Linked DNA regions of Homo sapiens: regions 1, 2 and 4 are each reported to be linked to region 3. Evidence: microRNA targets listed by miRTarBase, many of them from high-throughput screens and not tested one by one. Region 3 holds a microRNA gene; each other region holds the end of a gene's coding sequence.
The links. The annotated mature microRNA hsa-miR-603 reads CACACACUGCAAUUACUUUUGC and lies in region 3 at 1,101-1,122, opposite strand. An mRNA with a match to its seed (bases 2 to 7 or 8) in the 3' UTR can be bound and repressed. Matches are read on the target gene's strand: a 7mer-m8 pairs with bases 2 to 8, a 7mer-A1 pairs with bases 2 to 7 and ends in A, and an 8mer does both.

Region 1 (3,000 bases), not on the chromosome of region 3:
TTAAAATGGTTAAAATGGGCTAAAACATCAGTGTTTTCTCATGGGGGTTATATTGTGTAGCAACGGAATGTTACTTTTAATATTGAATGTAGCTAATTATGCAACATATTTATTTACCTTTTTAAAAAATTTTAATTTTAATTTTTAGTTCTGGGGTACATGTGTAGGATGCGCAGGTTTGTTAAATAGATAAACGTGTGCCAAGGTGGTTTGCTGCACCTATCAATCCATCCCCTAGGTATTAAGCCCAGCATGCATTAGCTATTTTTCCTAATGCTCTCCCTCTTTTTCTTTTTACAGGAAAAACTAACCCAAGAGTGTGTATTCAGAGAACAGTTCGAAGAAAACTGGTATAATACGTACTCATCAAACCTATATAAGCACGTGGACACTGGAAGGCGATACTATGTTGCATTAAATAAAGATGGGACCCCGAGAGAAGGGACTAGGACTAAACGGCACCAGAAATTCACACATTTTTTACCTAGACCAGTGGACCCCGACAAAGTACCTGAACTGTATAAGGATATTCTAAGCCAAAGTTGACAAAGACAGTTTCTTCACTTGAGCCCTTAAAAAAGTAACCACTATAAAGGTTTCACGCGGTGGGTTCTTATTGATTCGCTGTGTCATCACATCAGCTCCACTGTTGCCAAACTTTGTCGCATGCATAATGTATGATGGAGGCTTGGATGGGAATATGCTGATTTTGTTCTGCACTTAAAGGCTTCTCCTCCTGGAGGGCTGCCTAGGGCCACTTGCTTGATTTATCATGAGAGAAGAGGAGAGAGAGAGAGACTGAGCGCTAGGAGTGTGTGTATGTGTGTGTGTGTGTGTGTGTGTGTGTGTGTATGTGTGTAGCGGGAGATGTGGGCGGAGCGAGAGCAAAAGGACTGCGGCCTGATGCATGCTGGAAAAAGACACGCTTTTCATTTCTGATCAGTTGTACTTCATCCTATATCAGCACAGCTGCCATACTTCGACTTATCAGGATTCTGGCTGGTGGCCTGCGCGAGGGTGCAGTCTTACTTAAAAGACTTTCAGTTAATTCTCACTGGTATCATCGCAGTGAACTTAAAGCAAAGACCTCTTAGTAAAAAATAAAAAAAAATAAAAAATAAAAATAAAAAAAGTTAAATTTATTTATAGAAATTCCAAAGGCAACATTTTATTTATTTTATATATTTATTTATTATATAGAGTTTATTTTTAATGAAACATGTACAGGCCAGATAGGCATTTTGGAAGCTTTAGGCTCTGTAAGCATTAAATGGCAAAGTCCGCTATGAACCTGTGGTAAATTCATGCAAGTAGATATAATGGTGCATGGATATAAGAAATTCTAATGACCCTAATGTACTAAAGGCGACAATCTCTTTTGTGCCCATATTATTGTAAACTTATGCACATCGCTCATGACACTGAGTATTCACTCTTCAGACTGCTTGTTTCATAGCTTATCCCAGAGGATTAAAGATAAACTGGGTCTCAAACTTTGATTCTGTGTCTGCAATATTTCCTCTCTCATAAGTGACTCCACTATTGTAACTTCATGGTTGGAAAATATGAGGGTTGATATATGTCTTACTTGTTTAAATCTGTCGCAGAATATACCAAAGCTAAATAATAACTATGCTTTCATTTTAGCCGATCTCCAGAATGACAGTATTAACATCAAACATTGTATTGATTTAGAATTCTCAAAAAAGGAAAAAAAAGTACATAGCACAGACTATTTTTTTTAAAGACGTAAGAATCAGATTAACAGGATCATACTTGTAAACTTTTTTTGGTTCACTTGGCTATCAAATATGAAATTATAGAAGTATCATAGGGGTCATTGTAACATCTTTTAGAGAAAATGGCTATCAGTGTGAACTGTCATAATTACGTGGTAATAGCACCCTTAGTAAAACTTGCAAAATGAAACTAATAAATCGTTATCAATAATGACAATGAGGGGGAAAGTATTATACTTGTTGACTGTGTTTTGTTTTTTAAAATGGTCTCCACAAGCGCTCAATTTTTTTAGAGGGGATATTACTATATAGAATATCTTTTACAAGGCTTTTATAACATTTTATGCTGAAAAGCATAAGAATACGTATTTCTTTAGTAGCAATAATTTTGGAACTTGCCCTTGGGCAAGCGAGACTATTTCTTACTATATACTAAGGAGAAAAGAGCCAAATTCTTAAAGCAATATTTAAGAAAAAAGGAATTTATAACAAATTCTCATCTACATATGACACTTTCTAGCCAGTTGTGTTGAGAAGTGCAAAGTGACGGTTTAAACATGTGTTGGGATTTATTGAACTAATTTTAAAATTTACTATTCAAACTTTATTTTGCTCTGATGCACATTCTCTATGAAAAATAAAAGTGTGTCACTGGTGAGTGACAGCTGTTATGAGCTAGAAGCGCATGACTTATTGTGACGATGTCTTGCCTTTCTGTGGTCCAAGTTGGAGTACATGGCAATGCCCTCCTGCTGATGTGCATTAAGGAAAATCTAAGTCTAATATTTGGAATTAAGATATATTTTAGGGGGAGGGGACAGAAGCAATGTAAAATAGTTGATTTATGATAAAGCTCAGAATGTCCTCTTCATTTATTTTCTTGTTTTATTTTCCTTTCTAAACAGAAACTGCATTTAATTCCAAAAAGTAGTATTCTTATTTATTATTTAACCCTTTGCTGCTGCTAAAATGTGCACATATTCAGGCTTTAGTTTTTCCAAAAGGCATTTTTTTTTTGGCTGAAAAATATTAAACATTTGACCACAGGGAAGAATCAAGTTTCTAGGATGTCATAGGTATACTATGTAGCACTGAAAAAATTGATTTTAGGTGACAGCCAAAAGTAGTCTTAAAGTAGCATGAGACCTTAGATAATCGACCTAAAAGAAAGAAAATTGTGAAAAAGACAAAAATCTTCATGCATTCCTATAAAACGCTACTTTAAGGTCTACTTTTGGAGTTAATTTTGTTTGGTACTTTT
Region 2 (3,000 bases), not on the chromosome of region 3:
TCCTTCACTAGCTGACAGACCATGGACAAATTAGGCCTTAGGCTGTTATTTCATCTTTATACAATGGGGTTAGATTAGATCAGTGGTTCCCAGCTCTGACTACATTTTATAATTTCCAGAGAACTTAAAAAAAATTTTCCCCTGGGCTCCAGGAAATCTCTGGGGAGAAGCCAGGTGATTTTAACCTATAGTCAAGGTTGAAAACCACTGGATTACATGATGTCTGAGTTCTTTTCTGCCGCTACAATTAACTAGACATATGGGGTTTGGGGTTCATTTTTGTTTTTGTTTTGGGGGTTAAACACATCAACTGAGTTTGAGATGTCAGCTTAACTCTTGGGCTGTTCTGAATGACTGACCTGTTAATCCCTTACCTCAAATAATGTACAATAAATAAAAATGAATTGAGCATTCACTGTACTTTTCTTTCCCTTTAGGAAGCAAAATGAAATTTCTGCAAAAGAAATGAAATCTCTGATTGTCTCCATCCTGAATATACAACAGAAAGTGCCAAAGAAAATATTTTTCTAAGGGTCAGGATCCCATGAAGTATTCTACAAAATTCTTGAAATTTTAAAAGGTTAAAGAGCGAGTCAGGCTGTTAGAGGAGGATTCTCCTGTTGCTGCTGTAGTAATCACTGGAGAATTGTTGGGAATGGTCTGGCACCATGCCATCTTTACTCTGTCTCCATTTTTTTTTTATAGCAGCCTTTTCTATGTGATTCTTGGGCTCATTCTCTGTTTTGTGCTTTGTCTGTGAAAGTAGTTGTGTTTCACAAGGAAAAGCCTTGTTGTTGTTACATTTAAAAAATAGCTCAAAGATGAGAATAATGAGAGAAATGCTGAGTTTAAGGTAGTAGAGAGACATGATGGAAATGGAGAACACTAGCCTTATACACATAATTCTCATCACTGAACTATCATGGCCCCTTTAAACCCATGGGCTGTTTGACCTGGGCTAAGGAATAGACTCATCACATATCTCCATTGTTTTGCCTTATATTATATCTAGGGGAATCTCACTTAGGAGGAAGCCCTACTTGTAATATTATAAGGTACTGTTATTAAGTACCTTATAAAATTAGACATCTTGCAACTCCTCCTCCAAATTATGTGGCATTTGAGTAGTTTGCTTGTGCCTCACATGTCAACATTAAACTTTGTGGAGGCTGGATGCAGTGGCTCACACCTGTAATCTCCACCACTTTGGGAGGCTAAGGCAGGAGTTTGAGGGTGGGAGTTTGAGACTAGCCTGGGCAACATAGCAAGATCCCATCTCTACAAAAACATTTTAAAAATAAGTAAATAAATTTAAACTTTGTGAAATTATAGCTAATATGAAAATGTCCTTTCAAGGGCATGGGAGCCACCTTTATTTTTTAGTGTCCACCATGTGCCATGCACTGTGGTATATGTATGCATATCATCTCAACCAATCCTTAAATCAACCTTATGAGATAGATATTTGCATCTCCATTTTACTAATAAACTGAGGCTGGGTGCTATGGCTCACGTCTGTAATCCCAGCACTATGGGAGTCCAAGGCGAGTGGATCATTTGAGGTCAGGAGTTCGAGACCAGCCTGGCAACATGGTGAAACTCTGTCTCTACTAAAAATACACACAAAAAATTAGCTGGGTGTGGTGGCAGGTGCCTGTAATCCTGGCTGCTCGGGAGGCTGAGCCATGAGAATCGCTTGAGCCCAGGAGGCAGAGGTTGCAGTGAGCCGAGATCGCGCCACTGCATTCCAGCCAGGGTGACAGAGCGAGACTCCATCTCAAAAAAAAGAAAAAAGGAAAAGAAAAAAGAAAAAAACAAATTCAAAGAAGTTAAATACGTTGCCCAAAGTTGTACAACACAGAACTGAAGCCAAGACTTTTATGGACACAGAAAAAGTTGGTTAGTCCTACAGATGGAAATTTCATCTCAGTAGGATTATATAGCTATTTCTTTTATTAATAAAAATTTTCTATTAAGTGTACCAGAGCCACTTTTCAGCTCTGAGGATAAGGAACTTTATAGGTGCCTAGATGAGACTCTTTTTATTCCCCTAGAAATGTTGAAATTTTTGCTCTAATTAAATTAGACTCAAAATATGAACATTCCTTGAACATATACCACTTAGTCATCCAGACCTTTAATATCTAAAGTAGTAGTAGTAGTGATTGGAAAGAGAAAGTTTTCAGTGATGGTGCAGTGTTTTTTTTGTGTGTGTATGTGTGTGTGTGTGTGTTTTGTTTCGGTTTTTTTTTTTTTTTTTTGAGATGGAGTTTCGCTCTTTTTGCCCAGGCTGGAGTGCAATGGTGTGATCTCGGCTCACTGCAACCTCCGCCTCCCGGCTTCAAGCAATTCTCCTGCCTCAGCCTCCTGAGTAGCTGGAATTATAGGCACCCGCCACCACACCTGGCTAATTTTGTACTTTTAGTGGAGACGGGGGTTTCACCATGTTGGCCAGGCTGGTCTCGAACTCCTGACCTCAGGTGATCCACCCACCTTGGCCTCCCAAAGTGCTGGGATTACAGGCATGAGTCACTGCACCCGGCCTGTGTGTGTGTGTGTGTGTGTGTGTGTGTGTTTTCAAACTCATGGGCAAATTCAAGTTCAGATGGTGCACTTTTCATTGATTAATGTTATAGCAAATGTCAGTTTGTTTTCTTCAGTTTCTGCTGATGGTTTTAACTGGCACAGAAAGTATTTATTCAACCTTACAAAACTGTGTAAGTTGTATTGTGATACAGTTTATTGACTTGTACAGTATTGTCATTACAACCCATTCAGGTATGCATGAATCTGAAGCAGAACACCATTTAAGACTGGTGCTGTATAATATAATTCCTACAGATGTGGGTCCAGGGAATAGAACTGAGCCTGTCTTTTTTTTAATGTTAAGCAGGTTACCCCCAGTGGGGCTTCTACTAGACATCTCTCCATTTGGTCTCTTCTTACACTCCAACCCAGCAGGAACAGTTAATAATTGGATGTTTATAAAATGGGGGTAAA
Region 3 (3,447 bases):
AGAGGCTGAGGCGGACGGATCACAAGGTCAGGAGTTCCAGACCAGCCTGGCCAATATGGTGAAACCCTGTCTCTACTAAAAATACAAAAATTAGCTGGGCGTAGTAGCACATGCTTGTAGTCCCAGCTACTCAGGAGGCTGAGGCAGGACAATCACTTGAACTTGAGAGACAGAGGTTGCTGTGAGCCGAGATCGCGCCACTGCACTACGGCCTCGGTGACAAAGTGAGATTCCATCTCAGAAAAAAAAAAAAAAAAAGCTGGACTTGATGGCATGTGCCAGTAGTTCCAGCTACTAGGGAGGCTGAGGTGGGAGCATCACTTGAGTCCAGGACTTCAAGGTTACAGGGGCTATGATTGTGCCACTGCACTCCAGCCTGGGTGACAAAGCGAGACCCTGTCTCTTAAAAATTTTTTGTTTTTAAATTCAAACCCAGTTTTCCTCAGGACTCTTATTAACAGCTATCTAAGGAATAGGAAGGGATGCCCTCAAACCGGGCAGAACGAGATGGAATTCTAAGTCATTTTGTCTTTTGCATTTCTGAAAAGACTTTCATTTTTCAAAGGACATCAAAACTGAAATGCCTTATAAATCCCTTTGTGTTTCTGCGTTCTGTTCAATGGCATCAATAAGATGGATGATCAGCAAATGGCATCAAACTCCATTTGTATTCTTATTAGAATAATAACACGTAAAATGATATGAAATGAAACAGCAGATTCCAATGACCTTGTAGCCCAATTCAATTACTATTTCACTAAATAACGACAAAACTGACAGTCCTCAAGCTGCTGAATTTATGAATTAAATTCAACTTCTCTTCTACATTCTGAGCAGGACTGAGTGGAAAAAGAAATGGTCAGTGAGGACTGGGGAGGAGTTTCCTTCTCTTTGCTATTTAATGCAACATCGCCAAGCCCACTGGAGGGAGGGGTATGGAAAGACAGTTTAAAAAGGAATATCAGGACCAGAAGGGAGAACTGATGGCCAGGGCCCTTGCTATAGTTTGCTCCTGCAGATGAGACACTGCTTTGGAAAATTTTATCATTAACCAAACTGCACTGATGCTAAAAGTCAATAAAGCCAAGTATTAAGTTGGAGCAAAAGTAATTGCAGTGTGTGCCATTACTTTTAAATGGGAAGCACTGCAATTACTTTTGCACCAAACCAACAGCATCAATCTTGCCTGCATCTTAAGCAAAGGCTTAATGAGAAAAAAAACATACTTGAGACTACTAAAGCATTATACAGTCAGTCCTCATTACTAGCAGATTCTGTATTTGTAAATATGCCCATCACCTAAAATCTGTTTGTGACCCTCAAATTAATACTCCCAAATGTTTGCAGTCATCATAGACATGGCAGGACAGTGGACAACTGGAGTTTCCCAACAAGCACGTTCCCAGGTGGCGTCTAACTAAACAACACTCTGCTTTTTTGTTTCAGTTTTCATACTGTAAGGAAGCACCCTTTCCACAGTCTTTTTAGTGCCACAAGTTTCGCATTTTTGTGTCTTTTTGTGTCTGTGTGTGCACCTGCATGCGTGTATGTGTGTGTGAGTGACTTCACTATTTAAAATGGTCCAAGCCAGGTGCAGTGGCTCATGCCTGAAATCCCAGCACTTTGGGAGGCTAAGGCAAGAGAATTGCTTTGTGACAGGAGTTCAAGACCAGCCTGGAATATACTAGTCATGTTCATTGGGGAATTAAGACCTCAAAAACATAGCCAGACCCTGCCTCTACAAAAAAATAAAATTAAAAAATTAGCTGGGCATGGTGGCGTGTGCCTGTAGTCCCAGATATTTGGGAGGCTGAGGTGGGAAGATCACTTGAGCCCAGGAGTTTGAGGCTCCAGTGAGTTGTGATTGTGTCACTGCACTCCAGCCTGGTCAAGAGGGCGAGACCCGGCATCTACAAATTTTTTCTTTAAATAAGAAAAGAGAATAAATTTTAAAAATAAGAAATAAAATGAAATGGCCCTTAAGTATGGTGTGGAAGTACTATTTGGCATTCCTAGGCTCAAGAAGGCTGTGATACACCTTACACAAAAAATAAGTGCATTAGATAAGCTTAGTTCAATGCTAATGAATCAATAATATATATTTTAAAAGGTGTCTTCAAACAAAAACACAGGTAAAATAAGGATTTTTGTTGATTGGTTGATAAAAAGGTAACCAAAGACTCACAGGAACCTAACCCTGTATTTCCCCTAGGAAATTCAGTATTAACTAATAAATTCAGGACTCACTAATGCAGTATTTAGGGCAAGTTTATAGAACATCAATACTGTGAATAACAAGAATTGACTGTATTTTCAAACTGCAGTAAAAATGCCATAAGTATGTAAAATAGGACTTGTAGGAAGACAACAAAGTATATTTAGATGTAGCAGGTTCATCTTTTTTACTTTTTTTGCAGATGTGAGAACTTGACAATTTCTAACCACTGGACTTAGAATGGAGAACACAGCCAATCTGGGTGACAGAGCAATATTCCGTCTCAAAAAAAAAAAAAAATTAGCTGGACTTGGTGGCATGCACCAGTAGTTCTAGTTACTTGGGAGGCTGAGGTGGCTGGTCATGAACTCCTGACCTCAAGTCTCCCAAAATGCTGGGATTATAGGTGTGAGCCATTGTGCCTGGCCAGCAATGGCAATATTTTCTTACTACCAACTCTCAGAAAACATACATTATTCTCCATAATTATCCAATAAATTTGGACCCATCTGAAAATAAGCATCAGTCACTTTTCAGTTTATACATGTATGCTATTAGTCATTACTCTGGTAATATGTGAAATGTAAATCATTGCCTTATTACTTACTGGATATGGGCTGTTTTTTGGTTGAGGTATGCGTCTAATTTATTGGTACTACATTAGAAAATGCCCTACACCAAATATCTGCTCTGATTGGACTAAGATCCTACATTTTTATATTTGGGAATATTGCTCAACTTGAGAAAGGCAAGATGTCCCAATCCCTGCAACAGTAACTTGGACTTTTTTTTTTTTTTTGAGACAGAGTCTTGTTCTGTCGCCCAGGCTAGAACACAGTGGCACGATCTCGGCTCACTGCAACCTCCATCTCGTGTGCTCAGGCGATTCTCCAGCCTCAAGCCTCCCGAGTAGCTGTGATTACAGGCATGTGCCACCACACCCGGCTGATATTTGCATTTTTAGTAGAGACAGGGTTTCACTATGTTGGCCAGGCTGGTCTCGAACTCCTGACCTCAGGTGATCCACCCACCTTGGCCTCCCAAAGTGCTTGGATTACAGGCATGAGCCATGGCGTCCAGCCAATAACTTGGACTTCTAATTAAAGATGTGACGTGGGCCAGTTATGCATAGAGGTAAGCCAAGGGCCTCTTATGTGACACCCTCACTGGACTGGGACAGATTCTGCCATGTCATTTACCTTGAGTACTCCAAAAGGAAGAACATAAAAATA
Region 4 (3,000 bases), not on the chromosome of region 3:
AGGGAATCGAACATGAGCAGCAAAAAAAAAGCTGTTAAAGAAAAGCTCTCAATTGAGGAGGAGCTGGAGAAATGTATCCAGGATTTCCTAAAAATCAAAATTCCAGATCGGTTTCCTGAGAGAAAACATCCTTGGCAATCTGAACTTTTAAGGAAGTATCATCTATAAGGGAGGGCTGGGGGCGGGAAAAGAAAAAAAAAAGTCATTTTGAAATTAACCTCCTAAAAGGAATTCATATTTTAAAGGAAAAAAATACAACTAATGATGCACATTTCTTAGAACACAATAGTCCATTGATATACTACTGCCTACTTTACCTAGTTCACCTTAACATGTAAATCCACAGGGTAGATTTCTTTCTAGATGTGGAAGTACAAGAAAATCTTTTTTAGTTATTTGTTTGTTTACTTCGTCCCATGTGCTAACTATCTTATATATAATGAGAGCCAGCTACGTAAAAGTAGCTGAGAGGCCTTGGGAGTCATTTATCCCAAACTGGGTTTTTTCTCTCATCCTTCTACCTCCCTCCTTTGAATGAGGGTATGGTAGAAAAAGATCTGGCCCAATGGCATAAGTTTGGAATTTTTAATTTTGGTTTTTCCTTTTGTTTATGGGGTTGGGGGGAATGGCAGATTTATATGACTTTTCACTCAAATCTATATGTGCCAGTTTATATTGACTCCGTATGCATGAGTATTTGTGCAACACAAGCACAACTAAGTATGTATATACACATGACGCACACGATGCCAGGGCCTAGACCTCCCAAGGGCTGTGCTCCTGCTCCCAGCAGCCCTCTCTTAGAATATTTCAGATGGATGAGCTTCTGACTCTTTCTTAAAATTCTTTTGGGAAGATTTCCCAGCCTTTCTTCACAACACTTTCTAACATCAAATGACTCTCATCATCAACAAATTGTATTCCTTATTGTGAAATTAATACCCTCAGGCTCCATTTTACTGCTTTGCTCTTTGTCTGCATTAAGAGAGGATGAGGAGAGCTGGTCAAACATTCCTTGTGTTAAAAAAATCAAACATTCATATCCACAAAATTTTCTGCTAAATGACTCCACACTCAGCCTTCTCTACCCTGAACTGAATTATCACCCTTTTCTCCATGTTTTCAGAGTTCTTACTGCCCACAGTTTAATGGTGTGGCCTTTCCACATAATCCACATTAAGTTCTGTGTTCCTGTGTTGTTGTGGAACTAAGGACAACACACAGTACTTGAATAAGGGTCCGGCCTTTTGTTTGTTTTAGAGAAAGTTGTATTCCACACACAACCTAATAATTTCTTATAAAAATTTTAAACTACAAAGCTACATTTTTACTTGCTTGTAGCCGTTTTTGTTTGCCTTTGGGATTCGGGCTTTGGCTGTGCCCATGCTAGGATTTAGCTGTGTCATTTTTATGATGTCTGTAACAACCCAACAAGGTAACTGAAGCTCCAGAGTTAAGGTTTCAGATTTCTAAATGAAACTATCTTTTTCAATTACATCCTGACTTGTATAGACACAGCCAAAAAGAAACTGTTAATAGCCATCCGTCCATGTAACTCTGTATTTTACTAAGGTACCAATAGCTCTTTCATAGACTTGTGCTACAAGAAGGTTAAAAGACCAGTTTTATTTTCAGCATTCCTCATGCATTTCAGTGGTAACCAAAAAATAATTTGTCAATTAATAGTTGTGTGCCAAGCACTCCTAATTTGTTTTATTGCGTGTGTGTGCATGTGTGTATGTGTATCACAGGTAATAAAGGCAATTGGATGATATCTGTAGGAGGAAAACAATGACTAATTTCTTCCTTTTGAAATCTTTCATTGATGCACATTTATTATGTAAGATGTTCTGTCTTGATTTCTGTTCTTAGTGATGATTAGTATATGAATATCTTTCTGAATTTTTGTAATTCTCGCCTTCACACTAGGATGACAGACTCAGCTAATGTTTCCTTGTCCTGAAGGTTTGAATGGAGTTGAAAGTTTTACATAAGTGAAAAAGAAAGTTTATCTTGGGAGTTGAGTTGTCAAGAGAATTATAATTTATGAATTTAAGTGGTATTCTTTTCTGTATTAATATATTAGCAGATATTTGGTCTTAACTACAACATAGCTTTGTTTGTAAACTTACCAGTATGTCTTGATTCTTTTCAATGTTTCTTGATAGCACATGGCAATACCATCATCCTAATAACAGAAGATCTTGCAAAGAATCACAGAGCTTAATGGGTCAAGAAGTTGAATTTGGGGAAAATATCCTGAAACTCACTTTGGTCAAATGATTATTGTGTTGTCACTGGAAGTACTGTCAAAGACTTTGGGGGTCTAACTAAAATGGCCAAAGTTCCAACTTCCTTAAATTTCAGACCTGACTGTAATGGCCTCAAGATAGAGAGATACCCTTATAAGAGTAAAGAATTAAGATGATAGTCAACCCAATATTTCTACTACATTCTTTAAACAGGAAATTAAACACTGCAAAAGGAGTGTTCGTGGCAGTGTTCCTCTGACCCCTGACCTGTCATGAGTTTTCTCTGCTCTGACATTCCTTATACATCCAGTGAACAAAGCTGGAATAGAAAACCTGTTTAAAACCATCACAACAGCAATATTTTTATTCTGGGCCACCTCTCGACTGGCACTCATCCCATGGTAAAATATTCAAGTAACTAAGACAACAGCATGGCATTTATTTGTGTGAGTGTTTATATAGAAATGAACATAGACCTGGCCAGTAAAAGGCTCTGAGGAGGCTTAAAGTACCTAGTTTGAGTGGAGTTATCAAGTGAGGTCCAGGTAGCCTGCAACACTGGAAATGAGTTCTGGGTAAGTGAGTTATAAGAGTACATGCTCTAGTAACTCTGGTAGTCACTGTGACTCGGGCATGTTTCCCTGAAGTTAAAATAGTTTTTAGAACTTTTTGTTTAATTCTGAAGAAAACAATATATATGGTTTACTTCTCGAACATTGGTTATGACAAGGGCCATAAATTGCTAATA

Region 1: miRTarBase lists FGF9 as a target of hsa-miR-603. Seed matches in the 3' UTR shown: 7mer-m8 at 811-817, 7mer-A1 at 814-820, 7mer-A1 at 846-852, 7mer-A1 at 854-860 and 7mer-m8 at 2,382-2,388.
Region 2: the mRNA of DENND2C is a reported target of hsa-miR-603. Seed matches in the 3' UTR shown: 7mer-A1 at 2,210-2,216.
Region 4: the mRNA of KCTD16 is a reported target of hsa-miR-603. Seed matches in the 3' UTR shown: 7mer-A1 at 1,733-1,739.

The regions. Positions count from the first base shown.
Region 1 is chr13:21,700,890-21,703,889 of GRCh38, forward strand. FGF9 (fibroblast growth factor 9) reads left to right here. Exons shown (of 3, transcript NM_002010.3): 3 at 301-3,000. The coding sequence ends at 546. Among named protein-coding and RNA genes, the nearest start is that of FGF9, 31 kb to the left of the region's middle.
Region 2 is chr1:114,583,069-114,586,068 of GRCh38, reverse strand. It overlaps DENND2C (DENN domain containing 2C), which reads left to right. Exons shown (of 21, transcript NM_001256404.2): 21 at 438-3,000. The coding sequence ends at 469. All of the region lies in intron 2 of LOC105378914 (a long non-coding RNA gene), which reads right to left. Among named protein-coding and RNA genes, the nearest start is that of BCAS2, 3.0 kb to the right of the region's middle.
Region 3 is chr10:24,273,420-24,276,866 of GRCh38, reverse strand. MIR603 (microRNA 603) reads right to left here and starts at 1,182; the gene lies at 1,086-1,182. The region is part of intron 2 of KIAA1217; the gene reads right to left.
Region 4 is chr5:144,473,947-144,476,946 of GRCh38, forward strand. It overlaps KCTD16 (potassium channel tetramerization domain containing 16), which reads left to right. Exons shown (of 4, transcript NM_020768.4): 4 at 1-3,000. The coding sequence ends at 168. Among named protein-coding and RNA genes, the nearest start is that of KCTD16, 300 kb to the left of the region's middle.